Homo sapiens: one gene and its partners. The protein of the gene in region 1 interacts with the protein of each later gene in a pairwise test. Each region holds a gene or a part of one and is shown in the gene's direction. Other genes may lie near its edges.

Evidence for each region.
Region 2: the proteins of TRIM23 (region 1) and RTP5 interact in binary tests that used the Homo sapiens proteins (3 or more experiments, as listed by UniProt).
Region 3: the proteins of TRIM23 (region 1) and CDR2 interact in binary tests that used the Homo sapiens proteins (3 or more experiments, as listed by UniProt).
Region 4: the proteins of TRIM23 (region 1) and RUFY1 interact in binary tests that used the Homo sapiens proteins (3 or more experiments, as listed by UniProt).

Annotation. Positions count from the first base shown.
Region 1 is NC_000005.10:65,589,190-65,593,364, reverse strand, and holds the end of TRIM23 (E3 ubiquitin-protein ligase TRIM23), read left to right. Parts: intron 1-1,416; coding exon 1,417-1,596; 3' UTR 1,597-1,862; coding exon of another isoform or gene 1,863-1,921; 3' UTR 1,922-3,062; coding exon of another isoform or gene 3,063-3,066; 3' UTR 3,067-3,675; downstream 3,676-4,175.
Region 2 is NC_000002.12:241,864,753-241,872,741, forward strand, and holds the start of RTP5 (receptor-transporting protein 5), read left to right. Parts: upstream 1-4,976; 5' UTR 4,977-5,004; coding exon 5,005-5,162; intron 5,163-6,961; coding exon 6,962-7,989.
Region 3 is NC_000016.10:22,364,589-22,371,619, reverse strand, and holds part of CDR2 (cerebellar degeneration-related protein 2), read left to right. Parts: intron 1-6,605; coding exon 6,606-6,718; intron 6,719-7,031.
Region 4 is NC_000005.10:179,602,547-179,609,577, forward strand, and holds part of RUFY1 (RUN and FYVE domain-containing protein 1), read left to right. Parts: exon of another isoform or gene 1-226; intron 227-1,060; exon of another isoform or gene 1,061-1,195; intron 1,196-3,329; coding exon 3,330-3,378; intron 3,379-5,035; coding exon 5,036-5,113; intron 5,114-5,738; exon of another isoform or gene 5,739-5,919; intron 5,920-5,943; exon of another isoform or gene 5,944-6,070; intron 6,071-6,829; coding exon 6,830-6,973; 3' UTR 6,974-7,031. UniProt on the Homo sapiens protein: Activating adapter involved in cargo sorting from early/recycling endosomes. Regulates retrieval of proteins from endosomes to the trans-Golgi network through interaction with the dynein-dynactin complex.

The DNA of each region.
Region 1 (4,175 bases):
CTCCTAGGTTCAAGCGATTCTTCTGCCTCAGCCTCCCAAGTAGCTGGGATTACAGGTGCTTGCTACCACACCCGGCTAACTTTTGTATTTTTAGTAGATTCAGGGTTTCATCGTGTTGGTCAGGCTGGTCTCAAACTCCTGACCTCAAGTGATCTGCCCGCCTCATCCTCCCAAAGTGCTGGGATTACAGGTGTGAGTCACTGCGCCTGGTCAACACTGTTCGTGGGTTATTAAACTGAGACATTTTCTTGGAGGACAATTTGGCAATACTCATCAAAGTCCCTTACCCTGCAATTCTACCTTTATATATCTGGTAGACAGATATCCAAAGGTTATCCTACAGATAATTTTGCAAATATACATAAATGTATGTCAACTTTTGTGTATGTATGTTTATGTATGTATGTGTATATATATGGATTTATAATAGCACATAAGCATAAAACTTCAATCTGAACATTCAGTATAGGACTGGTTAAATTATGTTGCAGCCACACAATGGAAGGGAATTCTGATATTAAAAATAATGCAGACCATCTGTGCTGATAATGGAAAGATACTCATCTTCAACATGTTTACGTAAAAAACAAACAGAAAACCCTGCAAGTTATAGAAAGTCTAAACTATGTTCCTGTTTGTGTCTCTTTGCATGAGTGTGCATGGAAATTTTCTGGAAAAATATGTTGTAACTGGTGGTTGCTCCTGGGAAGTTGGGGCAATGGGTGTTCAGAGTGGGAATGTAGTGAACTCTTCAATATATAACCCTATATATAAACCATTTATTAAGGTTTCTATGTGTTAATTTTTTTTTTTTAAGTTGATGCCTTACACTTAGGCAGGCCAGGCGTGGTGGCTCATGCCTGCAATCCTTGCATTTTGGGAGGCTGAGGTTGGTGGATCACTTGAGGTCAGGAGTTCGAGACCAGCCTGACTAACATGGTGAAACCTCATCTCTACTAAAAATACAAAAAAATTAGCCGGGCATGGTAGCACATGCCTGTAATCCCAGCTACTTGGGAGGCCAAAGCAGGAGAATCGCTTGAACCAGGAGGCAGAAGTTGCAGTGAGCCAAGATCATGTCACTGCACTCCAGTCTGGGTGACAGAGTGAGACTCTGTCTCAAAAGATAAAAAAATTACTTAGGCAGTATGTTTCCTTTTAGGTTGCAAGGACTTTATTGATTTCATTGTTAAGCTAGCCTTACAAAGTATATACATACACACACATATAAATTAGTTAAACCAAACTAATTTTTTCTATTCTTATTAATCTCAGAATAATTACTGAAAGATGAATCTAGGTTTTTTGTTTAGGCTTCTGTTAGAACACTGTCAACAAATTTCTCTATAAATGGTGATAATTAGAAAAATTATAATTTGGATGGACTGATAAAAAATATGTGTATATATCTTTCAGGATGTTGCTGGAGCACTGTCAGTAGAAGAAATCACTGAACTACTCAGTCTCCATAAATTATGCTGTGGCCGTAGCTGGTATATTCAGGGCTGTGATGCTCGAAGTGGTATGGGACTGTATGAAGGGTTGGACTGGCTCTCACGGCAACTTGTAGCTGCTGGAGTATTGGATGTTGCTTGATTTTAAAGGCAGCAGTTGTTTGAAGTTTTGTGGTTAAAAGTAACTTTGCACATAGTATGTTTTAAGAAATTATACATCTCAAAAGATGGTAATTTAGGATGCATATATATATATATATATATAAAGGAATCTTGGATTGGGAATTCAGTACTTTGCTTTAAAAAAATTTTGTGGCAGAATTAAATTTCTAATTGAGCAGATTAGATTGAATTAAATAGAAACTTATTGAATATACATTCTTTTAAAAAGTATATTTGTTATTTAAGTTTTTCAGATAATATGTGACCAATATACTGGGAAAGAGGTAGTCACAGAGAAAGGGTAAGTGAAGGTTTATTCTTTCAGTGAAAAAAGAATAGCCAATTGAGTGCCTAATGAGACCTCTGTGTGAAGCAAGTGAAGTATAGCTGCTTCTTTTAACCTGCCTTTTCACTGAATGTTGGCAGCATTTAGTAGTAGAAATGACAGTTGCTTAATGAAATAGAATCCAAACTACATATTTGGATAATAGGATTACTTTATGTTTATGTTCAGAGTTAACAGAACACCTTTAATGCTAAGAACTATAAGGTACAGAAAATTAATACTTTATATAGTGTTTTATTAACTTTCTCCTACAGCATTTTGTATAAAACACAATGAGGGAGTGAAATGTTACCCAATTAGGCTTGTCAGGTTAGTAATAAACTGAACAGTAATAAAACTGTGGAAGTAATTGGATCTGAATTTATGAAAGACCCATTTCCAGGACTGAACCTAGGTCAGAGCTCTAAATTGGTCCTTCTATTTTTCAACAAATTTAAAGTAATATTTCTTTCTAATATAATATTGCATCCTTTGTGGGAATGACTATAGGTAAAATGTAGTAAGTAACGCAGAACCAGGGTTGGCTTTATTTAAAAGCTAGTGACCTAAATAGAAAGCGAACTTCAAGAGAAGTTGTAAGTACAGTGGCAAATGCTTATTACTTACTTCAAACTGTTTCCCAAAATAAGTGCATTTATTTTGACAATAAAACTTAAGGCTGTTCATGAGAAGGCCTTGAAAAGTTACTCTAGAGGAAAAATGTCTAAAGAAAAAAAAAATTCAAAAAGTTTACATTAATTATTCAGTGTTGTGAGTAAATAAAAATGTGTGCTCTTTACTGTTTTTCATTTTTAAAGAATATTATTATGGAAGCACGATTTATTTAAATAGGTACATTGAGACTTTTTTTTTTTTAATGTTCTGATACATTAGGATGAAGTTAAATCTTAAATCTTATTAGTTGAATTGTTGTAAGGACAGTGATGTCTGGTAACAAGATGTGACTTTTTGGTAGCACTGTTGTGGTTCATTCTTTTCAAATCTATTTTTGTTTAAAAACAATACAAGTTTTAGAAAACAAAGCATTAAAAAAAAAGCCTATCAGTATTATGGGCAATATGTAAATAAATAAATGTAATATTTCATCCTTTATTTTTCAGGTAAAAGGTCATGCTGTTACAGGTGTAGTTTGTGTGCATAAATAATACTTCCGAATTAAATTATTTAATATTTGACTGATTTCAATAACTGTGAAAAATAAAAAAGGTGTTGTATTGCTTGTGAGAACTTGAACTGTTTACTAGTTAATTGAAGAAAAAGTGTAACACTAAGGTGAACTTGCTTCCCTTTTCACTAATTTTGCTAAACTTTGTAATGCACATTCTTAGCATATAACTGAACACAGTTGAAAAATTGTGCCTGATTATAATGTATGTATAATGGTAGGTGTTTGTGTGTGATTCATTTTTAAAGAAATATTTTTCTCAAGCTCCTATTACTATTTGTGGTTGTATTATTTCACTAATCATTAGTTAAGACTGTGCTAGTCTTCCCTGGGAAACTAAGAAGAGAGCTTTTTTATATACAGTATATTAGAATTTTCCTAGTAGCTGAATTTCTGTATTAGGTCTAAATATTACTGTATGTTATATAAAGCAGGTATGTCAAGTGTATAGCCGTAGTCTATAATTCAGGAATGCTTTATAACCATCAGAAGCCATTATTTGCACTACATATATGATAAGTATAGACAGCAATAAAATGTTAAGATCATTTTTAAGAAGTCCCATCATTATTCTTGAAAGTCTCTTTCTTGAACCATCTACCTAATATTATTGCTAGTTGTAACCAATTTAAGAAGTCATTATTTGTGCTGTGGTTAGGAGAGAAAATAAAACAAAATGGGTATGGGTTGGCATGCCTGTCAAATTTGAGATGTAGTTTATTTGATACAGCAAAATTTTAGAAATAACGTTTTGAATTTGCAACATAGGCCACATTTACTGATGAGAACAGATACTAAACTTGATCTTAACTACACCTGATCTTAGCCAAAAGGCCGAGAAGTAATGTGCAGGCCACATTTAAATAAGTAATATAACCATAGTGTTTTGAAGGCGGAGCTAAAGTTTTACATTGAACGAAGTGAAACTTTGTTACTGCCTTTTAAATTTTAAATGTAAACTTGTTTCATAAGAAAACATAGTATTTTAAATGACCATTTTAGAAAATGGCTTGCAAAACTTAGTGGTAGCTCATGAACTAATACTGCT
Region 2 (7,989 bases), on another chromosome or scaffold:
GTGTGTGTGGTGTGTGTAGTGTGTGTGGTGTGTGGTGTAATGTGTTTGGTGTGTGTAGTGTGCATTGTGTGGTGTGTGTAGTGTGTACGTGGTGTGTGGTGGGTGTAGTGTGTGTGTGGTGTGTGTAGTATGTGTTGTGTGTGTTGTGTGGTGTAGTGTGTGGTGTGTGTGGTGTGTTGTGTGTGTGGTGGGTGTAGTGTGTGTGGTGTGTAGTGTAGTGTGTGTGGTGTGTGTGTGGCATGTGTGGTGTTTGGTGTGTGTGGTGTGTGTAGTGTTTTTATGTAGTGTGTGGTGTGTGTCGTGTGTGTGGTGTGTGTCGTGTGTGTAGTGTGTGTGTGGTGTTTGGTTGTGTAGTGTGTGTGGTGTGTGTACTGTGTGTGGCGTGTTTGGCGTGTGTGTTTGTGTGTGGTATGTGTAGTGTGTGTGGTGTGTGCGGTAATGTGTGGTGTTTCTGTGGTGTGTGTAGTGTGTGTTTGTGGTATGTGTAGTGTGTGGTGTGTGGTGTAGTGTGTGGTGTGTGTGGTGTTTGGTTGTGTGGTGTGTGTAGTGTGCGTTTGTGTGTGGTGTGTGTAGTGTGTGTGGTGTGTGTACTGTGTGTGGTGTGTGTAATGTGTTGTGTGTGTGTAGTGTGTGTGATGTGTGGGTGTGTGTGTAGTGTGTGTGGTGTATGTGGTATGGTGTGTGTGCTGTGTGTGGTGTGTGTAGAGTGTGTTGTGTGTGTAGTGTGTGTTGTGTATGGTTTGTGTGATGTGTGTGTAGGGTGGTGTGTGTTGTAAGTGTGGTGTGTGTAGTGTGTGTGTGTGGTGTGTGTAATGTGCGTTTATGTGTGGTGTGTGTAGTGTGTGGTGTGTGTAGTGTGTGATGTGTGTAGTGTATGTAGTGTGTGGTGTGTGTAGTGTGTGGTGTGTAGTGTGTGGTGTGTGTGGCATATGTGTCTTGTGGTGTTTGGTTGTGTGGTGTGTGTGGTGTCTGGTGTAGTGTGTGGTTTGTGTGGCATGTGTGGCATGTGTGGTGTTTGGTTGTGTGGTGTGTGTAGTGTGTGGTGTGTGTGGGTGCGTGTGGTGTGTGTAGTGTGTGTGGTGTATGTGGTATGGTGTGTGTGCTGTGTGTGGTGTGTGTAGAGTGTGTGTGTGTAGTGCGTGTTGTGTATGGTTTGTGTGATGTGTGTGTTTGGTGTGTGTGGTGTGGTGTGTGTAGTGTGTCTGGTGTGTGTAGTGTATGGTGTGTGTAGTGTGTGTGGTATGTGTAGTGTGTGTAGTGTGTGGTGTGTGTGGCTTGTAGTGTGTGGTGTGTGTGGCGTGTGTGGCATGTGTGGTGTTTGTGTGGTGTGTGTGGTGTGTGTAGTGTGTGTGTGGTATGTGTAGTGTGTGTGGTGTGTGTGGTGTGTGGTGTGTGGTGTCCTGTGTGTGTGTGGCGCCCCTGCCTTCTCACTCCAGGGCAGTGGGTGTCACTCAGGCCCCTTGCTGGTCCCCCTGCTGGTCCCCCTGCTGGGCTCCAAAGCCGAAGAACCCGGGCTGAGCTGCGCGGGATGCTGAGCTGCGCGGGATGCTGAGCTGCGGGGGGATGCTGAGCTGCGGGGGATGCTGAGCTGCGGGGGATGCTGAGCTGCGGGGGATGCTGAGCTGCGGGGGATGCTGAGCTGCGGGGGATGCTGAGCTGCGGGGGATGAGCAGCGTGAGTGAGCGGTCCCCCAGGGAGGGATGCTCCGAGGGCGAGTGCAGGAGGTCCCTTGCATTCCTCCTTCGGAATGGCCTCCCCAGCCCCAGCAGGACTGCGGGTTGGAGGGGAGAGCAAGGGGCCTCTTGGACAGTGGAAGCGCTTTCAGCAACAGAATGGCTGGACAGAGGCTGCGTCCCCCCACCAGCTGCCGGTCCTGGGATCCCTGCCCGCCTGGGCAGCGCTGGGGCAGAGCCACACGGAGCCTTGGGCCAGGAACAACCCCTTGCCGGTGGGGCCTGTGGGACTGCAGGGCCTGGGGTCTGGGAGGCGGCCTTGTCCCTGCCGCTGCAGCCACGAGCTGAGGTCTGTGTTGGGAGGGTGAGCCCCAGCTGAGGTCTGTGGGGGGAGGGTGAGCCCCAGCACCTGCGAACGGCCACCGTTCTCTGCTCGGCTCCTTTTCCTGCCCGTCTCTTTCTCCCTCTGAGCAAGGACCACCATCCCGTCAGCCGACCGGTCCTCTGGCCCCACCGGGCCTTGGCGTTTGCTCCTCCCTCGCCGGGAGCTGCTGCCTCTGCTCCTCCAGGCCCAGGCAGTGCATCCGTTCTGGCAGGAGACTGTGGTGGGACTCACCTGAGCTGCAAGTTCTGCTTCCCAAGGGAGGGCTGTCCCCGGCCTGCCAGCTGCCCTCCCCAGAAGCTGAGCTCAGGAAGACGGGTACCAGCGTGTGAGGAAGGGGCCCCAGAAGGAGCGCGTGTCTGCGGGGAGAGGGAGCGCTAAGCCACCACACCAGGTGGGCAGCAGTGCTGAAGGGGCACCCGGCTTCCCCTGATCGTTTCTTTTCCCTGTGGCCCAATCTCCCACCCCCATCTCACCCTGTCCTGGAGCCAGCCTTCGGGGAGGCTGGGCAGGGAGCGGGGTCAGAAGGCGTCTGCCCCAGGCCTGGGTCCTAGGGCCTGTCCTTGGAGGGACCACACATGCCTGGAGAGAGGCTCCAGTGGCCGGCTCCAGGTGGGCGCTGATGCAGAAGGCCCAAGGAGGACCCTGCCACATGTTGCAGGGACCCGTGGGTGCTGTGCACAACCTGCCTCATCCATCCCCGCCGAAGAAGAGGGGGTGCTCATGGCTGGCTGATTTGTGAGGGGGCCACGTAAGCAGCTCTTGCAGGGCGTGGCTTGTGGGTTTGGGAGACAGACAAATGGGCAGTCAGACAGAGGCGTGGACAGGATGCCCTCTCTGCTGTCTGCCGCCCAGGCCTCTGGAGGTGTTCTGGGATGGGTCTAAGGAAAACTCAACAATTCTTGAGCGAATAATGCCCGGGCAACCAGCTCCCTGCATTTCATAAGGGCCGGAATTGCCATCCAAAAGGTTATTTTGGGTGACTGTGGTCAGTCATCATTCCAAAGCTTTTCCCTAAACTCAGAGCCAGGTGTGGCCTCCAGGGCTGAGGAGCCTGAGAGGTGGGACTGGCAGGCAGGGCTGTGGCCCCAGCGTGGCACGGAAGCAGCCAGGAAACACTGGCTCTGGGGGGCTGTGGTGGGAGGAGGTCCTCTGCAGGGACCCCTGTGGACCGAGGCTTTTGGAGGCAAGTGGACAGTAGGTGTCTCTTAGACCCCTGCGGGGGCACACGACCAGGACCACAAGGGGCCCACACACGCACAGTGGCCCGGAGCCAACCAGCAAACCCCAGGACCTTAGATACAGCCCGGCGAGTGAGTTAGGATTGCTCCGGCTAGCTGTGTGATCATCCACAGTGCCAGAGAACAGTGCCTCGAGACCACAGTGGCAGCTGGCTTACTTCTCGTGTGAACAGGAAACCCAGAGGTGGGCGACCCTCCAGTGGTGTGACGACTCCATCTGTCACCACAGCCCCGGGCTCCCGCCTTCCTGCTCCTTGGGCTCACAGCTCTGTGCTTGAGGCAGGTCTAAGACAGGCTGGAGTGCGGCCATCATCCCAGCACTGATGGATAGAAGAAAATGAAGCTGGGATGAGAAACGCGGGGCTTTCCCTGGCAGTCTGGCCCTGTATGGAGGCCCCTTCCCAGAGTGCGTCCCACTGGCTTCCTCTTCTATCTTGCAGTCACACCTAGCTGCAAGGCGGGAAGATGTCACAGGTTTGAAAGGGCCGAAAAGAAGGTTCAGAAATGAAAACTATGACAAGGCGCTTGCCAGCATTAGCTGCAGAGTCGACAGAGACGAGGAGATAATGTGTGAAGTGGTAGAAAAATGAGAAGAGATTGTTCAGTGTGCAGGGCAGAGAGATGGCGAGATGGGAGCTGTGAGGAGAGCCGGGTGGCCGGGAGCCTCCCGGGGGCAGATCTGTGCTGAGGTTTTGCAGGGATCAGCTGGCTGTCTCCGCCCCTGCACGTCCCGGCTCCTTCTCAGCTCACCCTTTCTTGTTGTGCCATGACAGGTGGCTGCCACGCACAGCAATGCTGTTGAATCTCAGAAATTAAACAACCTGAAAAGGCGTGAGAAGCTGGGCACATGCATGAATTGTTTATGTAAAGCTCAGAAGCTGCACAGCTAAAGGGCTCGGTGAGGGAGGCATCATAGGTGTTGAAGCCTCAACGTTGTCTGTGCAGGCACGGCCAGGCTGGTGGCACCTCTGCCAGGAGGGCAGGGGGTGGGGGTGGGGCCGCGGGCTGAGATCGGGAGGGAACAGGCAGCCAGCTCTGGAGGCTGGCAGAGCGAGGTTTTGTTTCTTCCTATAGGACGTGGTGACTTAAGACTTTAGAATAATTTGTGAAGCTCTGCATTTATGTTTTAGGCATTTTATGTAAATATTTTATATTTCTCACTAGTAAAAAGTTTAAGAGAATACACCCACGGGACAATCTGCAATGATACACGTTCTATAAAGTTCTTCTCAGCTTTGTTTGTGTGAAAAGCATTAGTGCTGTTTGCAGAGAGAAGCTGAGTGAATAAGTTACATGATAGCCACAAGCTGGAAAAATACCAAGTGTTCAGCAAGGGATGAGTGTGGGCCACCGCTCCTGATGTGCACTAGAAAGAGAGGGCTGTGGATGATTCCTTGGTGCGATGTGTGAAAACACCCGGGCCTCTACACGCACGGGTCTGGGGAGGCCCCTGCGTGTCCACGGGCCCACGCCCACCACCACCACCACGGTGCTGCCACAGGGATGCTCTCTGGGGGGCGGGGTCATGGGAGATTGCATTGTATTGTATTTTTCCTTTCTGCTTCCCATTTCTCGGAGACAAATCTGGTTGCCATGGAGACCATGCTGTTGTCAAGGTGGCTGATTGGCCGGCGCGGGATGCGGGGACGTTTCCTTGGGCCCCCGGCGGGCGCAGCCCTCAGCCCACACTGCGGAGCCAGGCGGCAGCATGGACCGGGCTGGGGCAGACATGTGGGCCAGCACCTTCACCCTGGCCATGGCCGAGAGGAAGCCCCAGGACGTCTGGGTTCTGCTACCTGAGCACAGCCTGGTCCCGGGATGCCTGGACGGCGGTGGTGTCCAGTACCTGCTGGTGGGGCTCTCGAGGTGCGGCCAGAGGTTGGGGACCCTGGGAGAGGCAGGGGGCTGAAGGTGCTTTTCCACGGGACCTTGGGTGGTCCCAGAGGCTGGGTGGGGCTGTTGGGCCTCGTCTTGTCCCCGAGACGGGAGGGTGGGGCTGGGTGCTCCTTCTCCCGCCGGAGCCCCTGCCTCGCCATGCTGGGCACACGGCTGCTGACGCAGGGGTCCCGGGGAAGACATGGCGGGTGCCTCATGGAGAGTTTGGTTTCCCTCACTCGGCTCCTTGGGCCAGCGCTGCCCTTGGACACAGGCTCATCTCCTGCTTCCATGGCACTGCCGTGGTCTCGCAGCCATCAGTGCTGACAGGTGGGCCCTGGGGCGTGCCGGAGCCTGTGGTCACCATCCGGCCCTGTGTTGCACACAGCGGGGTGCTCGGCCCTGATCGGGGGCCCGGGGTGGCTGTGGGTCACAAGTGAGCCTCACAGGCCGTCATCACGGTTGTGGTGCCGTCAGCGCAGCAGGGCGGGCGCCATGCGCTTCTCCAACTGGCAAGGCATCCACAGCTCGGCCGGGTGCCAGCTGGGAGGGGCGCGGGGCAGCTCCACATCCTCGCAGATGCCCGGCCTGACAGGCCCCCAGGCTGCTGGCTGGTCCGTCCCTCTGTGGAGACACCCTGGGCAAAGGGGGAGTCGTCCTGCCCTTTGACACAGCTCCTCAGTGCCTGAGACCCCTGGGGCCAGGTGTGTGCAGAATCCCAGCTTTTTCAGAAGCTGGGAAAGTAATAACCCGTGTTGGGGTCTGAGAAGTGCTGGGAAGCACATCACTGTTCCCACAGCCAGGTGGAGATGGCTCTGAGCGGCTCCCAGCTGGCGGGAGAGAACTGAGGACGGCTGCCCCAACATGCAGCCCCAGCGCCCGTGGCTTTGGCTCCTCAGTCCCATTTAAATAAAGTCAGCAGTTCAGTTCCTCCAGCACGAACGTGTCCACGGGCTCTGTGGCCAGTGTGGTTGGAGGCTGCAGGCAGGGCAGTGTGGCTATAGAACATTCTGTCATCCAGAAACTTCCACTGCCTGGAACTGAATCATAGCCTCTCACTCATGCAGGGTTCCCTGAAGCTCACAGCTGCTTGTGTGGCTAGCAAATGGTCACCGGTCTGATGACCGCCATGGACAAGCCAATCCCTCCCAGTGCTCTCCCCAAACCTCTCCTCGCCTGGTGACGCCCAGCAGGGCTGCCCGGGCCATGACCGCAGGCCTCCGTGACATCCTTCCCCTCAGCTGGCAGGCGACCTCCTGGATCGCCTCCTCTCAGTCAGGACAGGGACCCCCACTTGCTGAGCCCCCAGGGACAGCCCCCACATGCATGCTTTTCCCCTCCTAAGTGTGTCGGCAGGCCTGCCTCTTCCTGTGTTAACCCCAACTCACAAAACACCAGCAGAGCCACGCAGGTGGCAGGCTGCCGACGCCTCACGGAGGCCAGGCTGGAGCGGGTTTTGTTGAAAAACTGCTGAGAGGAGGTTTGCTTTGCTTCTCAGTGCTCCACATGAGGGGGCTGCGGGCTAGTGCGCATGGGCCTGCTTTTGCCTGTGTGTGGCCGAGGGGCTGGTGGTTTCAGAGCCTCGGCACAGGCAGGAGCAGGTGCTAGGCTGCCTTGGCCGCGGCCCTGGGTGGCTGGGGGGTGAGGTTTGAGGTTTGAGTGTGGGATGTGAGGCAGGGGGCAGCGAGGCGCTGGGGTCGGATGGGCAAGGAGGCCGCAGAGCAGAGTGCGAGGGCTGGGCGTGGGGCCTCTTTCTCCTGCACTCACACACACTTCTTTCCCCGCCGCAGGCTCCAGTGCGGTCACTGTCCGGGGACCTGGGACTCGGCCCATGTGCACGTCCTCTTCCACCTGTGGTGGGACAGGGCCAGCCACCGGGGGCTGGTGAAGATGCGCATCTGGGGCCAGCGGTGCAGGCTGTGCCCCGCACCCGGGGACTGCCAGGTGAGGCCCCCGGGCGAGCAGCCCTTCCTCAGCAGGCTGGTCTTGCACATCCTGCAGGACTGCTACGGGGATGGCCCCGGCCCAGCCCGGCACCCCAGGGAGGCCTATGAGGGCTGCTGTGAGGCCTGTGAGCTGGGGGTCTGCTTCCTCCAGAAGGCCCCAGACCCCGCCTGGAGCGCCAACGCCACAAAAGGCAACTTCCCCGCCACGGCCTGGGGTGGCACTGGCACCGTCTCCAGGGGCAAACCGCTGTCCACCCCTGGCGACGACCTTGGCAAGGGTGGCGTTGTCATCGCCATCCCCTTCTCCCTTGTGGGTACCAGCAATGACCAGGTGCCCATCGCTGAGGGCCCTGCCCCCCCTGCGGGGGCCTCTCTCCCTGTGACTGGCAGCTGTGAGGCCCTGGTCATCGGCCAGGGCTCCATCTTCCTGTCTGGGGATTCAGTGGCCATGCCTGGGGGCAAAGGCTTCCCGGTGGCCATTGGAGACCCCCTCTTCCACGGCCCCGGCCTCCTCGGCAGCAGCATCCAGACCTTCGAGCTCAAGGGCTTCCTCTTCAAAGGCCGGGGCTCCCTCTGCAGCCCGGTTGGCGTGGCCCAGGGCTGGGGCCCCATCTCCCTCAACAATGGCCTCGTCCCTGTGGGGAAACACACGCCAACCGTGTTCTACTGTGTGGGCCTCTCGGCCAGCGGGGAGGGCTCCCTCACCTTCCCCTCCTCCCTCACCAGCATCTTCACCAACACCCTCTCGGAGCCCACCGATGGCCCTGTGGCCACTAAAGAGGCCTCCATCACCTTCCCCTTCATCTTTACTGATGTCAAGGATGCCGTTGCTGAGGTGGCTGAAGGCAACGGGAAGGAAGGAGGCGGCCAGG
Region 3 (7,031 bases), on another chromosome or scaffold:
ACTCCTAAACTTTTAACAGATTTTAAAACTTGTTCATTTCTCAAAAATGTATTATCTGCTCTTTGCCAGGTATTCGCCTGGGCCCTGGGGCCACAGCACCTCCCCACATGAGTGGATAGGTAGGATTCCTACTCCCATAGAGTGAATGTTCCAGGAATCTGTTCACTAGAGAAGCCTGGAGGTGCCGCCTCATGGGATGTGCCCACTACAGCGCCTCGTACATTGTAGGCCCTCAGTAGACACTTGCTGCTGAATTAAGTTTGGGAGCAGGTCTGTCCTGTTAAACAGATTATTCAGCAAGTCTAGTGGGATTTTATGTGCAGGCATCTGTCCGTTTTTTAACATCCTCATTATTATTACTGAGCAAGGCTTATTTGGAGAGAACTGCTTAAAACTTTTTTTTTTTTTTTGAGGTGGAGTCTCGCTCTGTCCCCAGGCTGGAGTGCAGTGGCACGCTCTTGGCTCACTGCAATCTCCGCCTCCCGCGTTCAAGCCATTTTCCTGCCTCAGCCTCCCAAGTAGCTGGGATTACAGACACGTGCCACCACACCCAGCTAATTTTTGTATTTTTAGTAGAGACGGGGTTTCCCCATGTTAGCCAGGATGGTCTCAATCTCCTGACCTCGTGATTTACCCGCCTCGGCCTCCCAAAGTGCTGGGATTACAGGCGTGAACCACCGCACCTGGCTGGAAAACAACTTTTAATGATCCTGTTCTCAGTATCTTACAACTATAGAATGTTTTCCTTTAGCAGTAGTAAGCCATGCTCTGAATAGATTGAATCTTTGTATCAAAGTTTCCTAGGGTATCCGTTTTTAAATTGAAATTGCTGGAAATTTCTAACCTCAGTAAACTCTGGTCTACTATTCATACCTTGTTAGAAACATGTAAAGCTTTTGTGTAGGCAGGAGGAGAAAACCCTTTGCTGTTACAAAACTCTTTGATGAAGAGACTGTCTTTTGTCAGAGAGCTGAGTTGGCTCAGTAGGAATACTGACAATAATCTCTGTGGGTAAGATCTTTTCTGGGACAGCAGGAGCCTTCAGTGCAGGTAATGATGGTGCTTGCTTTGAAACATGCCCCTGAGAACAAGGTGGAAAGACTTCAGAGACTGGATTTTCTTTTAAACCAGCTGCTATTGTCATTTGGTGAGCTGTGCAAACTTAGAATAAGGATTCAGGTTTCTGTTATGTGGATCAGTAAATGAACTCTTAGTTTAAAGGAATCCTAAAATTGCAGGATGAGTACATCCTCCTTGTGTACAACTATTTTGCTGAATCACTGTTTGGAGGGTTATTAAAACTGACAACATCATTTTTCTTGATATTTATATTCAGGTTTTCTGCTTTCCCAATTATAGTAACATTGGCAACAGGAGTTAAACAGAAGCATCACTAAATGACGCATTTGACTTTGTAATAGGAAAAACTTTCAGCCTTACTGTTAGTGAATTACTCCTACAGACTACAGCTGCCAGTACTAATTTTTTGCCTAAAGCATAGAGCTGAGTATCTGTTTAAAGCTAACAGTTTACACCATTAAAAATATATTATTACCTGCAAAGACTCATTAGTGAAAGAATATTCAACATATGAAGGTATTGATATGTTGAAATTCTCAAGCCTGCAATAAATCTACAGTATTTTTAGTAGTTGCCTAAACCAGGCCAGTTCAATAGGATTTAGAGAAGACCCTCTTAATGAAAATTCATTTTGTAATCCTGTAGAGATGAACAGGTGTATAAGGCTTCGAAACTATATTATTTCCTTTTCTTTTGTGCCTTAATTAAAACTATAAGGGACATTCAATATTCTATTCCCTCCACTAATTATTTAGAAAACTTTCTTGGGCTTACTGCCAGCTTTTGGCCTCTTTTGGTTATGGAAGCCAGCTGCTACTCAACAGGAAATGAACTTTTTTTAAAGACAAAGTCCGGTGTCTTTAAGCTAACAGATGAAGTAATATCCTGTTATACAGTGTGACTTCACAGGAGCTTTCTTGTAGTTGGGACTTGTTAAAATTCTATCCTTAACAGCCTATAAATATTTAGGAGATCGAGACTTCAGGTTTCTGAGCCAGGCTGGTGCTTTGTTTTACTGGAAATAAGGTTTGAGATAAGGACAAGTCTCAAATTCTTTTTTGTTTGCTATCTACTAAAGAGTGCTGTCCTTGGTATCTCTTTCTGCAGGAGCAGGGAAGAGGTTCCTGGCTACTCTTAAGTAGCACAGGTAGTTCCATAACTGAATGAAAGTGGTGATAGTCTCAAGACAGTCTGGATTCTGGGAGAGGTTTCAGCCCAGTTGGGTTTTGTTTTTTTTCTTTTTTTTTTTTTTCCTGCTAAGAGACAAGGTCTTGCTATGTTGCCCATGCTGGTCTCGAACTCTTGGCCTCAAACAGTCCTCCTGCCTTGGCGTCCCAAAGTGCTGAGATTACAGGTGTGAGCCACCACACCCGGTCCTTGGCTCAGGCTTTGATTGCTGGTTAAGAGCATCTTTGGTGAATCTGAGCCTTCCCAGTGAGGAATTACCACTTCACACATTTAAGAAGGAAAGACTTAAGTAATACCTAGGTAATGTTTTTATACTTTGTCTTTAATACAGTGTGGTAGCTTCCATATGGGTCTATGTATACACATTACACACTCTGTGAGTACAAAATCATTTTTTCTGGAACATGTTGAGCCATACATAGTTCCTTTTTCATTTGGTGAAAACAGGGTATTAACTTGCCTGGGGTTGTATGTGCTTTCACTAGCAGAGCAGGCAATAAAAACCCAAATAGTTGAACTCTAATTTCTCATTGCAATCTGTGAAAACAAGTAGAAGAAATTAAGTACCTCAACAAGGGGAACATTTGTATTCTCTACCTTAAAGAAGCCTGCGGACCTCTCTTTCAATTGCCTTAAAACTCTGCAGATGAAGATAACAAAGAATCGTGATGAGAGTGAGAGTGAGAACCTGTTGACCTAAGAGTTTCTGTTTGATCTGTGACTCACCTTGGAGCTTGATTAGGTCAATTAACAGTTTTGTGCTTCAGGCTGTCTCATCTGAGAAACTGGACTAAATACCTTTAAAGATATAAAGACTAATGTCTCTAGAAAACAAAAAGTAGGCTGGGGGCAGTGGCTCATGCCTATAATCCCCAGCACTTGGGGAGGCCGCGGTGGGCGGATCACTTGAGGTCAGGATTTCGAGACCAGCCTGGCCAGCATAGTGAAACCCCATCTCTACTAACAATACAAAAATTAGCCAGGTGTGGTGGTGGGTGCCTGTAATCCCAGCTACTCAGGAGGCTGAGGCAGGAGAATCACTTGAATCCAGGAGGCAGAGGTTGCAGTGAGCCGAGATCGCACCACTGCCCTCCAGCCTGGGTGACAAGAGTGAGAGACTCCATCTCAAAAAAAATAAATAAATAATGACAAGAAAAAGACTAATGTCTCTTAAATGCTTTGAGCTATTTGTAAAAGTTCTGTGTTTTGTAAATACAAGTTATTTCATAGATTTAATGGAAGTCTTTATTTTTTATTTTTTTATTTTTGAGACAGGGCCTCACTGTATTTTTGGTAGAGATGTAATTTCACCATGTTGCCCTGGCTGGTCTCGAACTTCTGAGCTCAAGCAGTCCATCTGGTTCACCCTCCCAAAATGCTGGGATTATAGGCATGACCCACTGCACCTGGCCTCTAAAGTCTTAATGAATGTAATGACTAATAGACATTGTTAGTTTTGAAATCACAAGAGAATGTATTTTAGCACCTATCTACCAACAGTATACTGTTTTATTTTAAATGGGTGTAAAATGTTTTTAAATGATCTGGAGTTGGGTGTGGTAGGTTTTGCTGCTTTTTCCAGAGTGAAAACTAACCAAGTAGAATACTAATTATGCACTTGAGTGGACATTACAACAACTAATGCTGTTGTTACCATTTACTCAATGCTAAGTTTTACTATGAGTAGTGGTGGATAGCCATTAAGCCTTATTTGTCAACCTCTAAAAATTAAGTTTAAAAATCATTATGTAGTGAGTTTCCTTGTTTTTATGATAAATTTTTTTCATAATACTTTTATGACAATAACTGAGGCTACTTTCCATCATACCTAGAATAAAATTTAAACTTTACCTACCATGGGCTATAAAATCCTATATGATCTGATCCCTCATGCTTCTATCATACTGGCTGCTTGTCAGGTTGTAGAATATGCCAAATTCATGGCAAGTTCTTCATCCTTCAAGCTTCAGCTAAAAGGTCTTGTCAGACCTTCCTTATGACCTCCCTTTCTAAATTGGGCCCTAGGCTGGGCACAGTGGCTCATGCCTGTAATCCCAACATTTTGGGAGGCTGATGTGGGAGGATGTGTTGAGGCCAGAAGTTTGAGATCATCCTGGGCAGCATTGTAAGACCCTGTCTCTACAATAAATCAGTAAGTAAGTAAGCTGGGTTTGGTAGTGCATGCCTGTAGTCCCAGCTGTTTGGCAGGCTGAGGCAGGAAGATCACTTGAGCCCAGGAATCCAAGGCTACAGTCAGCCATGAGTGCACCACTGCACTCCAGCATGGCAACAGAGCGAGACCGTGCCTAATAAAGAGACAGAAAAAGAAAGCCCTTTGTTCATTATCACCAAATCCAGGTTTTTCTCCCCCGCTTTATCTTTTAGACTTTATATTGAATTGGTCAACAAATCCTTTAGCTTTACTTTCAAAACATGTCAGAATTCTGCCCCTCCTCTCCCATCTTCATCTCTGCCACCCTGGTCCAAGCCACCATCATCTCTCACCCAGACGATTGCAGTATCTTTCTGTCACTCTGCTCCCACCTTTGTCCCATTCACCCTGTATAACAGCAGCCGGAGTGATCCTGTTAAACCTCCATTGGATTCCTTCATTTGGAGTAAAGGCCAAACTCTTGACCTCTTTAGTTAGGCCCTCCGCAAACTGGCCATCTTGGAGCCCCTCTGATTTGAGTCTTCCCCCTCCCCTCCCTGCCCAATACATTCTGCTCCACCCTCCTCAGCCTCCTTAATGACTCAGTCATGCTTCCTCCCAGGTGCTTTGCACTTGCCTTGCCTCTGCCTGGAGTGCTGTTTCCCTGATGGATACACATGGGTCACTTATTCTGTTCCTTCACACATTGATTCTAATGTGGCCCTGGTCACATGTTCTTAAATTTCAGCCTCCCACATCCACACTCCTCCTGTACTTCTTCCTTGCTTTATTTTTTTCTCTTTAGCATTTATCGCTATCAAGTTTTATTGTGCTGTTTCTCCCAGTAGAATATAAGCTCCATGAGGGCAGGGATATTTTTTTAATGTGAGTTCCTTATGGCTCCTGGGCACCATCCCAGTGCCTAGAATAGTGTCTGATATTATTGAGTATATGCATGCATGCATGAATACTGTTTATCACAGTATGTGAGTTTAGTTACTCATTTGTCTGGCTTCCTCCACTAATCTGGGAATGTCAGCAAAGCAGGACTTCATTTTATTCACTGTTCTATAGCTAATGCTTAGCATAGTGCCTGGCAACAAAAACATTCATTTGTGAATCAATGACTATTAATAGTACTTTGCGTGCGTATTGCAACTTAGTTTGTAAAGTACTCCTTTATGTATTATTTCATTTGATTTTCACAATCTTATATTGATAAGACAGTCATCTCTCTAAACAAGAATACTAACTATAGGGGCCTTAAAGTCACCATATTGAAAGTGTTCTGGTAAATGATAGAACTGGGCCTGAGACTTACCTGCCCAGAGTGCAGTGCATTTCCCACTGTATCAAAGGACTGCTCCATAAGATTTACTATGCAAAGAAGTATTTCAATGACGTATGTTACAACTAGTGTCCTTTCTTATATTGTTAACTAAATTTTCATTTCTGGGAGTTGAGTATAATATAAACAAATCCTGTTTTATGGGCATTATACCTAAGAATAGAGAGAGTTGAAAAATGAGGTTTAAAATAAAATATGGTTCTGTGCTAAATGGAAGTATGAGCTACTGACATGTAATTACCTCAAAAACCACATTTCTGTTTTGCTTTTCTAGTTGCTCATCTTACAGAAGGACACGAAGAGAAGTAGAGTGACCTGGGGCAGTGTTCTTAATGCTGATGTATTTTTCCTTTTCTTGACTTAATAAATTTTAGTCCCCTTAGGAGTCCAGGATATATGACAATAAACTTTAACAGTTGTATTCACAGCAGGCAAATTCATGGGAACTTTAAAGATTTTTGAAAGCTCCACCTATACCTTGGCTCAAGGGTCCATTCAAAAAAGTAGACTGTCAGGATATGAATACATTCATTGTACTAGCAAATAGGATTTTAGAAGTAACACTGCGGAATGATCATTCCTGAACAAATAACTGCATCTCCATAAAGTAGATGACCATTTTTCACTTCTTACAAGTATGGGTACATAAGAGAATACATTACCTGCTGGAGGCGTCAGTTTAACTGAATTTTAAGTAGAACTCGGGTTTCCTTCTGTGCCACTCCACCTTCCATTGGGATGTGACTTAAACTACATGTTCTTTTTTGAAGGACTGGGTTATATAAATTGTTGATGTGAGATCATTTGTATTATTCTAAGATTCATTTGTTGTGCTAGATCTTCAACTTGCTGCTGAGCTTGGGAAGACATTACTGGATCGGAACACAGAGTTGGAGGACTCTGTTCAGCAGATGTATACAACCAATCAGGAGCAGTTACAGGAAATTGAGGTAATTCACTTGGCAGGAGAGTTACACTTTTGACACTTCGATGTGTTGCTGTTATGCCAATCACATACTGGTAAAAAAGCACTTGCAATTAGATGCAGCATTTTATTTTTTAACACAAACTTTTTTGAGAATGAGAACCGCCTCCCGAGTAGCTGGGATTACAGGCGCCTGCCACCACGCCTGGCTAATTTTTGTATTTTTGGTAGAGATGGGGTTTCACTGTGTTAGCCAGGCTGGTCTCGAACTCCTGTCCTCAGATGATCCACCTGCCTTGGCCTCCCAAAGTGCTGGGATTACAGGCATGGGCCACCAC
Region 4 (7,031 bases), about 110 Mb from region 1:
ACGCCTGGGCCTTGGGGTGGATCACACTGCGGACTGTGGAACTTGCCCATTTGTGTGATGATTCTGCATTTTCAACATAGTGGGTAGCTTTTCTCCTCGAGTCAGGGCGCATGGTTGCAAGTAACAGAAATCCAACTCAAAGTGGCTTAAGCAAAAGAAGCCATCAGGAATCGGTCTCTGTCTCCTACCTCTGCTATCCTGTCTGCCTCACAGGTGGGTCTGGACCCTGCAGGGGCAAAACAGCACTCAGCAAGGCCATCTATCAGAGGAACAAACTCCCTCTTCTTTGTGCATAGCTGCCAGGATCACCCGAGATTGACCCTGCTCCCGAGTACCCATGCCTGACATAAGCACCATGACCAAGGAGATGGGGCTCACGACCTCAGCACAGCCTGGTCTGCACCAGAAATTTGTAGAGTCTAGTACTATTAAGAAAATAGGCCGGGTGCGGTGGCTCACGCCTGTAATCTCAGCACTTTGGGAGACTGAGGTGAGCAGATCACCTGAGGTCAGGAGTTCGAGACCAGCCTGGCCAACATAGTGAAGCCCCGTCTCTACTAAAAATACAAAAATTAGCCAGGCATGGTGGGCACCTGTAATCCCAGCTACTCGGGAGGCTGAGACAGCAGCATCGCTTGAACCCGGGAGGCAGAGGTTGCAGTAAGCCGAGATTGCACCACTGCACTCCAGCCTGGGCAACAAAAGTGAGAATCCATCTCAAAAAAAAAAAACAAATAGCTGGTCAGGGAATCTGATGTCTCTGGTGGGAATGCGGTCTGCCCACTCCCAGATGCAGGTGCTGGCCACTCGCCGTCTCTCCTGTGCCTCTTACCTTTCTAGACTAGCCCATGGCCGCTGCTTCCTCCCCTCCCACCCTCCGCCCTGCCTGCCACCCACTCAGCTGAGTGCCCTGTGCTGCTCCCGTCTGGCCTGTCAACTTGCCGTGCTCTGGCCCGTTCCTTCCCAACCCCCAGGGAGCTCCTTGAGGGACGCAAGGCCCAGTGTCTGTCCCCATGCTCAGAGCATAGGCCAGCTGTGAGGGCATCCCGAGAGCACTCACCAGAAGCAGACGTGGAACAGAGCTGGCGTGGAGCTGGCTTCTGGGGTTTGCAGCCAGTGTTTTCCTCTTTACATTGGATGGACAGCAAGGCAGTGTCACAGGTCCCCTCCTAGTGGACCATAGACCTCGAAACTGTGGTTGGTCTCTGATCTTTAAAATGTATCATTGTGGCCGGGTGTGGTGGCTCATGCCTGTAATCCCAGCCCTTTGGGAGGCTGAGGTGGGTGGATCACCTGAGGTCAGGAGTTCAAGACCAGCCTGACCAACGTGGAGAAACCCCATCTCTACTAAAAATATAAAATTAGCCGGGCATGGTGGAGCGCGCCTGTAATCCCAGCTACTCAGGAGGCTGAGGCAGGAGAATCGCTTGAACCTGGGAGGCGGAGGTTGCGGTGAGCCGAGATCGCGCCATTGCACTCCAGCCTGGGCAATAAGAGTGAAACTCTGTCTCAAAAACAAACAAACAAATGTATTGTTGCACTTTGTGGCCGCCTGGCACTACCGGCTAACCTAGCTTCCAAATCCCAGTGTGAGCTGCCTGGCCACCATTCCCTCCCAGTGAGTGCTGTGGGTGTCACAGCATCAGGTGTTTGCAAACCCAGACAGGACTACCTGAGGAGTTGCTTTTGTGCTCTCTCCCCTCTTCCCTTCTTCCTCTTGCAAGCCTATACCGGATGACAGAGATGGCAAAGCCTCTTCGCAGGCCCTACATTAGCTACAGGAACAGTTTCCAGTTTCATTGGCTTGGGAACATCTGGATTCTTCCTAAATTGTGTTTCCCAGAGTTCTTGTATGTTCAGTTTGCCTTGTTGACCTGGCTTCCCAAGGTCTGTCCATCTGCGCAGCCTCTTCTCATCCTGTCAATCTGCTGGCCTATTTCCTGTTTCTGCAGCCGGACCAGGAAGGGAAGGAGCTGCCTCCCGATCTTTAGTAAAAGCCACAGGGATTTTTCTAAATGCCCTGATGCTGTTTTCTAATCCCTCCCTTCGAAGTCTAGCCTGTGTTTCCCAGAGACCTGCCATTTTGTCACTGAGATGAGTCTAATCTGATGATAGTTCAGACTGATCTCAGCTTTTAAGAAAGACCCAGGCCAGGCTGGGCGTGGGGGCTCAGGCCTCTAATCCCAGCACTTTGGGAGGCCGAGGCAGGTGGATCACTTGAGGTCAGGAGTTCAAGACCAGCCAGGCCAATATGGTGAAACCCCATCTCTAGTAAAAGTACAAGAAAATAAGCTGGGTGTGGTGTCGGGCGCCTGTCATCCCAGCTACTTGGGAAGCTGAGGCAGGAGAATTGCTTGAGCCCAGGAAGCAGAGGTTGCAGTGAGCCGAGATCACACCACCGCACTCCAGCCTGGCCAATGCAGCAAGACTCCATCTCAAAAAAAAAAAAGAAAAAAAGAAAAAGGCTCAGGCCTATAATCCTAGCACTTTGGGAGGCTGAGGCAGGTGGGTCAATTGAGGTCAGGAGTTCAAGACCAGCCTGGGCAACATGGCAAAACCCCACCTCTAGAAAAAATACAAAAATTAGCCAGGCGTGATGGCATGCACCTGTAGTCGCAGCTACTTGGGAGACTAAAGTGAGAGGATCACTTGAGCCCAGGAGGTCAAGGTTGCAGTGAGCCATGATTGCACCACTGCATTCCAGCCTGGGCAATATAGCAAGATCCTGTCTCAAAAAAAAAAAAAAAAGGATCAGACTGTTTCCCTCAATTGCACAAACTGCTTCATTTTATTTGGTTTAGTTCTGCCAATTTAGACCATGTTCAGTCCTGTCTCTTGTGTAAACAAAGGAATTGTTCTGACACTGAACAAGAATGGAGCAAGAACAAATGGCTATGCCATCTGAGCCTTCCCCCTTCCAGACAGCAGGCAGCAGAATGGAGGCCGGGGAGAAGCCTGCAGACTCAGGTTCCTGCTGGGGAGAGCGGTAGAGACTAGTGCAGAACAGGGCCAGGTCTTGGACTTCTGGCCTCAGGCCATCCTCTCGCCTCAGCCTCCCTCAAAGTCTTTTTGAGCCCCTGCAGGCTAAGCAGTGTGTTCTCGTGCCAGATGCAGTCCCAGGCTCAGCCTCAGCCCTCAGCAGACGGGAGCCAGTGTGATGAGGCAACTCTGGGATTGTACAGAGGCGGAAGGCATTTTAACAACTCACGTTCTGGGTCTCCTCACAAGTCCGGTATCCTCACAAAGCTAGTCCTGAGAGCCAGCTGTGTTAGGGATTCAGAGCCTCACTCTCTCTCACTGCTATGAAATGGCCTTTTTTTTTTCCTTAGGTCCAAGCTGAAGATGGAAGATATAAAAGAAGTGAACCAGGCACTGAAGGTACTGCCTTGCTAAGAACCACTTCTTTGCTGTCAGCTTGTGCTGACTGCCCGTGTGCTCGTACGTTTAAGTATCCCAACAGTCAGGTGAGAGCGTGTGGTTGAGGCAGTGGTGATGACGTATTGACAGAGAAGCCAAACGCTGCTCAGAAACGTGTCCCTCGGCTGAGGGCGATGCTGACAGGTGGCCGAAGCTGAGCCTAGGTCTTCCGACTCCAGTTCCTCCACCATCAGCTGTGCTTTCAAAATAGGCCTGATGGGCATTCCCTAAGGGGGAAGCAGGTGGCGGAGAGGAGGGACCCGCGGATATCTTTAAACAGTGGAAAACAGGCCCTTCTGTTGAAGTGAGGGGCCAGAGGCCAGCCAGCCCCACTGCAGTGCCCTGTGCCATTGCTAGGGACCACTCAAGCCAAGCCCTGAGTTGGGCCAGGTTTCCGCACCCTGGTGGGGAGGGCAGAATGACACATTCCACCGAAAAGCAGGAGTTTGCAGGTGGCCCGGTGTGGGTGCGGGTGCCAGGCTGAGCTGCAGGGCGGAGAGTGTGGGAGAGGAGGCAGACATTCGGGGGCACGGCAGCCTGGCCTTCAAGACAGCCTTGCCTGCAGGAGCACCCCGCTTCGGCCTCAGCTGTGCCGTGGCAGCAATGCAAAAGCAGTCCCTTTGCACACTGTTCCACGTGGTGCAGAGCAGGGACCCTGATGTCTCTGGGCATCTAACTTCCAAGTGCCAGGTCAGGGGCAGCAACTAACAGCAGCCGGGACTTCTAGGTAATATCAGTTTCACAGCATCAGAGGATAGAAATCATAAAACAGGACTCTAGAGCCGCCAGAGCTCTTTGATGTCAGGATGAATGTCCTGGGCACACACTGGCAGCCCCAAGGGTATATGGCTCTAGCTCAGTCTGTGAGGATCTATTTGTCAGCAAGAAAATCTTGTCCAGCAGATGTTAACAGGCCAGAAAAGTACCTCATGCCTTTGACTTCTCTGGAACACCCCAGTCCCTAAGCCCAAATAAATCACAGGTGCTGCTTCGCCCTGAGAAAGCCCTCTGAGGGGCCACCTTTCAAAGCCTCAGCCGCCTCCCCTGTGGAATGGAGTCCATGTGCTCCCCAGGGCTGGTCAAGAATCAGGGCTTTGGCCCGCATGGAGAAGGGCTTCCTCAGGCCTGTGGGACGCAGTGCCCGCTGTCCATCACCTTCTGTCTCTCCACAAGGATCAGCGTCAACAAGTGTCTTAGTCTCACTCAGATTTGGCCCTTCTTCCGCGCCTGCCAGTTCAGCTAGCACTTCGGCCAGTGTCTCAGGCAGGGTCTAGGGTTGCAGGCACCAGAAGCTCGCTCTGCTTACTTCAGCCAAAGGGAACTGATTGAAAGTGGGAGTGTGCCTGAGTGAGCAGATGCTGGAGACCGCCTGGAGGCCCCAGGGCAGCCTGCAGAGGCCAAGAGGTGGAGCACGGAGCTAGGATGCAGAAATCCCGGCTGCGGCCAGACGGGGAAAGAGCCCCTTGATGACAGTCCTGTGAGGCCCCATCTGATGGAGAAACAGTGCCTCACTAGGAAACAGGTGCTATGAGGGACAATGGATGTGGCCAGAACGCAGCTACCCACTCATCAGGGGCTTAGACAGAAAGTGGATTCTAGAATGTCCTTTCCTCTTCAGGGCCACGCCTGGCTGAAAGATGACGAAGCGACACACTGTAGGCAGTGTGAGAAGGAGTTCTCCATTTCCCGGAGAAAGGTACGTGGGGGCTCCACCCACCCTCCCAGTGCCCTGAGTCGTTGCCCGCTGGATTCCCCTTTCTCTGGTTCCAGAAGCCCATATCAGAGCAGGCTCACTGCCCGGTGACTGTGCTGACTGTGGCAGATGGGCAGCCCCGCCTCTCCTGTTTGCCTGTGCAGATGGCTTTCCATCCTGGCACCCTCTTTCTGGGAGGCCTTGGCCAGTCATAGGCCCCTGGTCTCCAGCACATCCTTTCAGTGATTGACAATGATTTTTGGGGAGATGGGGCTCCTTGTGTGCAGAGCTGCTCTAGGGGAGTGTCATTGAAAATTCTCTGTATGCGGCAGGAACAAAATCTGGCCCAACTTAGGCAAAAACAATCTATGGGGAACCTACAGGGCAGCAGGTCACCAAAAATCACTAGTGATCTAGGCAGCGTGCTTGCCCCTGCCCTTTAGGTTCTGGAAACAAGGTCCTAGGCTCACCCTTGGGTCTAGGGTTGACTGGGCCTTATTAACAGTCTCACCAAGACCAGCTGGGTAGGGGAAGAGTTGGGTATAAGCAAAACTGGGAGCTAAAGGAAACACTGCCAGCGCCACCCACCTTTCTGCCACAGCCATGTTCTGTCTGTTCCCATCAACAGCCTAGCTCTGTGGAAGAGAGGAAGCCACAGCTACCCCACCCGCTCCCCAACCCGAGTTTCAGGCAGTGCCTTGCAGTAAGCTCAGAGCTAGAAACCACGTCCTGAGGCTGCCTTTGAGATCACATGTGTCTACAAGGCCTGGCTGTCCCCATCTGTGGAGTCAGAAGCAGAGGCTGCACAGGTGCTCATCTTGATGTCTTATCAGGCACCCAGGGAACCTGTTTAGAAAGGGATCTACTCCACCCCCTTGGAATGCAGCAAAGAGAACGAACCAGACTCTTCCTGTAACATGGACTAGCAGCTCACTGGCTTAGTGATGAAGTACAGCAAAAGTAAACTTTTTGTCTTAAAAACACCCTTAGGCCGGGCACGGTGGCTCATGACTGTAATCCTAGCACTTTGGGAGGCTGAGGTGGGTGGATCACGAGGTCAGAAGTTCAAGACCAGTCTGGCCAAGATGGTGAAACCCCATCATCTCTACTAAAAAAATACAAAAACTAACCGGGCACGGTGGCAGGCACTTGTAATCCCAGCTACTTGGGAGGCTGAGGCAGGAGAATCGCTTGAACCCAGGTGGCAGAGGTTGCAGTGAGCCGAGATTGCGCCACTGCACCCCAGCCTGGGCGACAGAGACTCAAAAAAAAAAAAAAAAGCCGGGCGCGGTGTTTCACGCCTGTAATCCCAACACTTTGGGAGGCCAAGGCGGAGGCAGATCACGAGGTCAGGAGATCGAGACCATCCTGGCTAACATGGTGAAACCCCGTCTCTACTAAAAATACAAAAAATTAGCCAGGTATAGTGGCGGGCACCTGTAGACCCAGCTACTGCCGGAGAATGGCGTGAACCTGGGAGGCAGAGCTTGCAGTGAGCTGAGATCGCGCCACTGCACTGCAGCCCGGGCGACTGAGCAAGACTCTATCTCAAAAAAAAAAAAAAAAAAAGACCCTTGTTTGCACACAGCCCCTCACCACCCCACAGAAACATAAGAACCCATTCCCAGCAAATGATGCGCTTCTGGGTCAGGAAGCAGGGAGGGTGTGCGGATGGCTTTTCCCCGGGTGTCCTGTGACCGCCTTCTTCCCGTCCTGTAGCACCACTGCCGGAACTGTGGCCACATCTTCTGCAACACCTGCTCCAGCAACGAGCTGGCCCTGCCCTCCTACCCCAAGCCGGTGCGAGTGTGCGACAGCTGCCACACCCTGCTCCTGCAGCGCTGCTCCTCCACGGCCTCCTGAACGTCCGTCCTCAGGAGCACAGCCTCACGGACAGTGCCAAACCCTGTGGGTCTCCAGG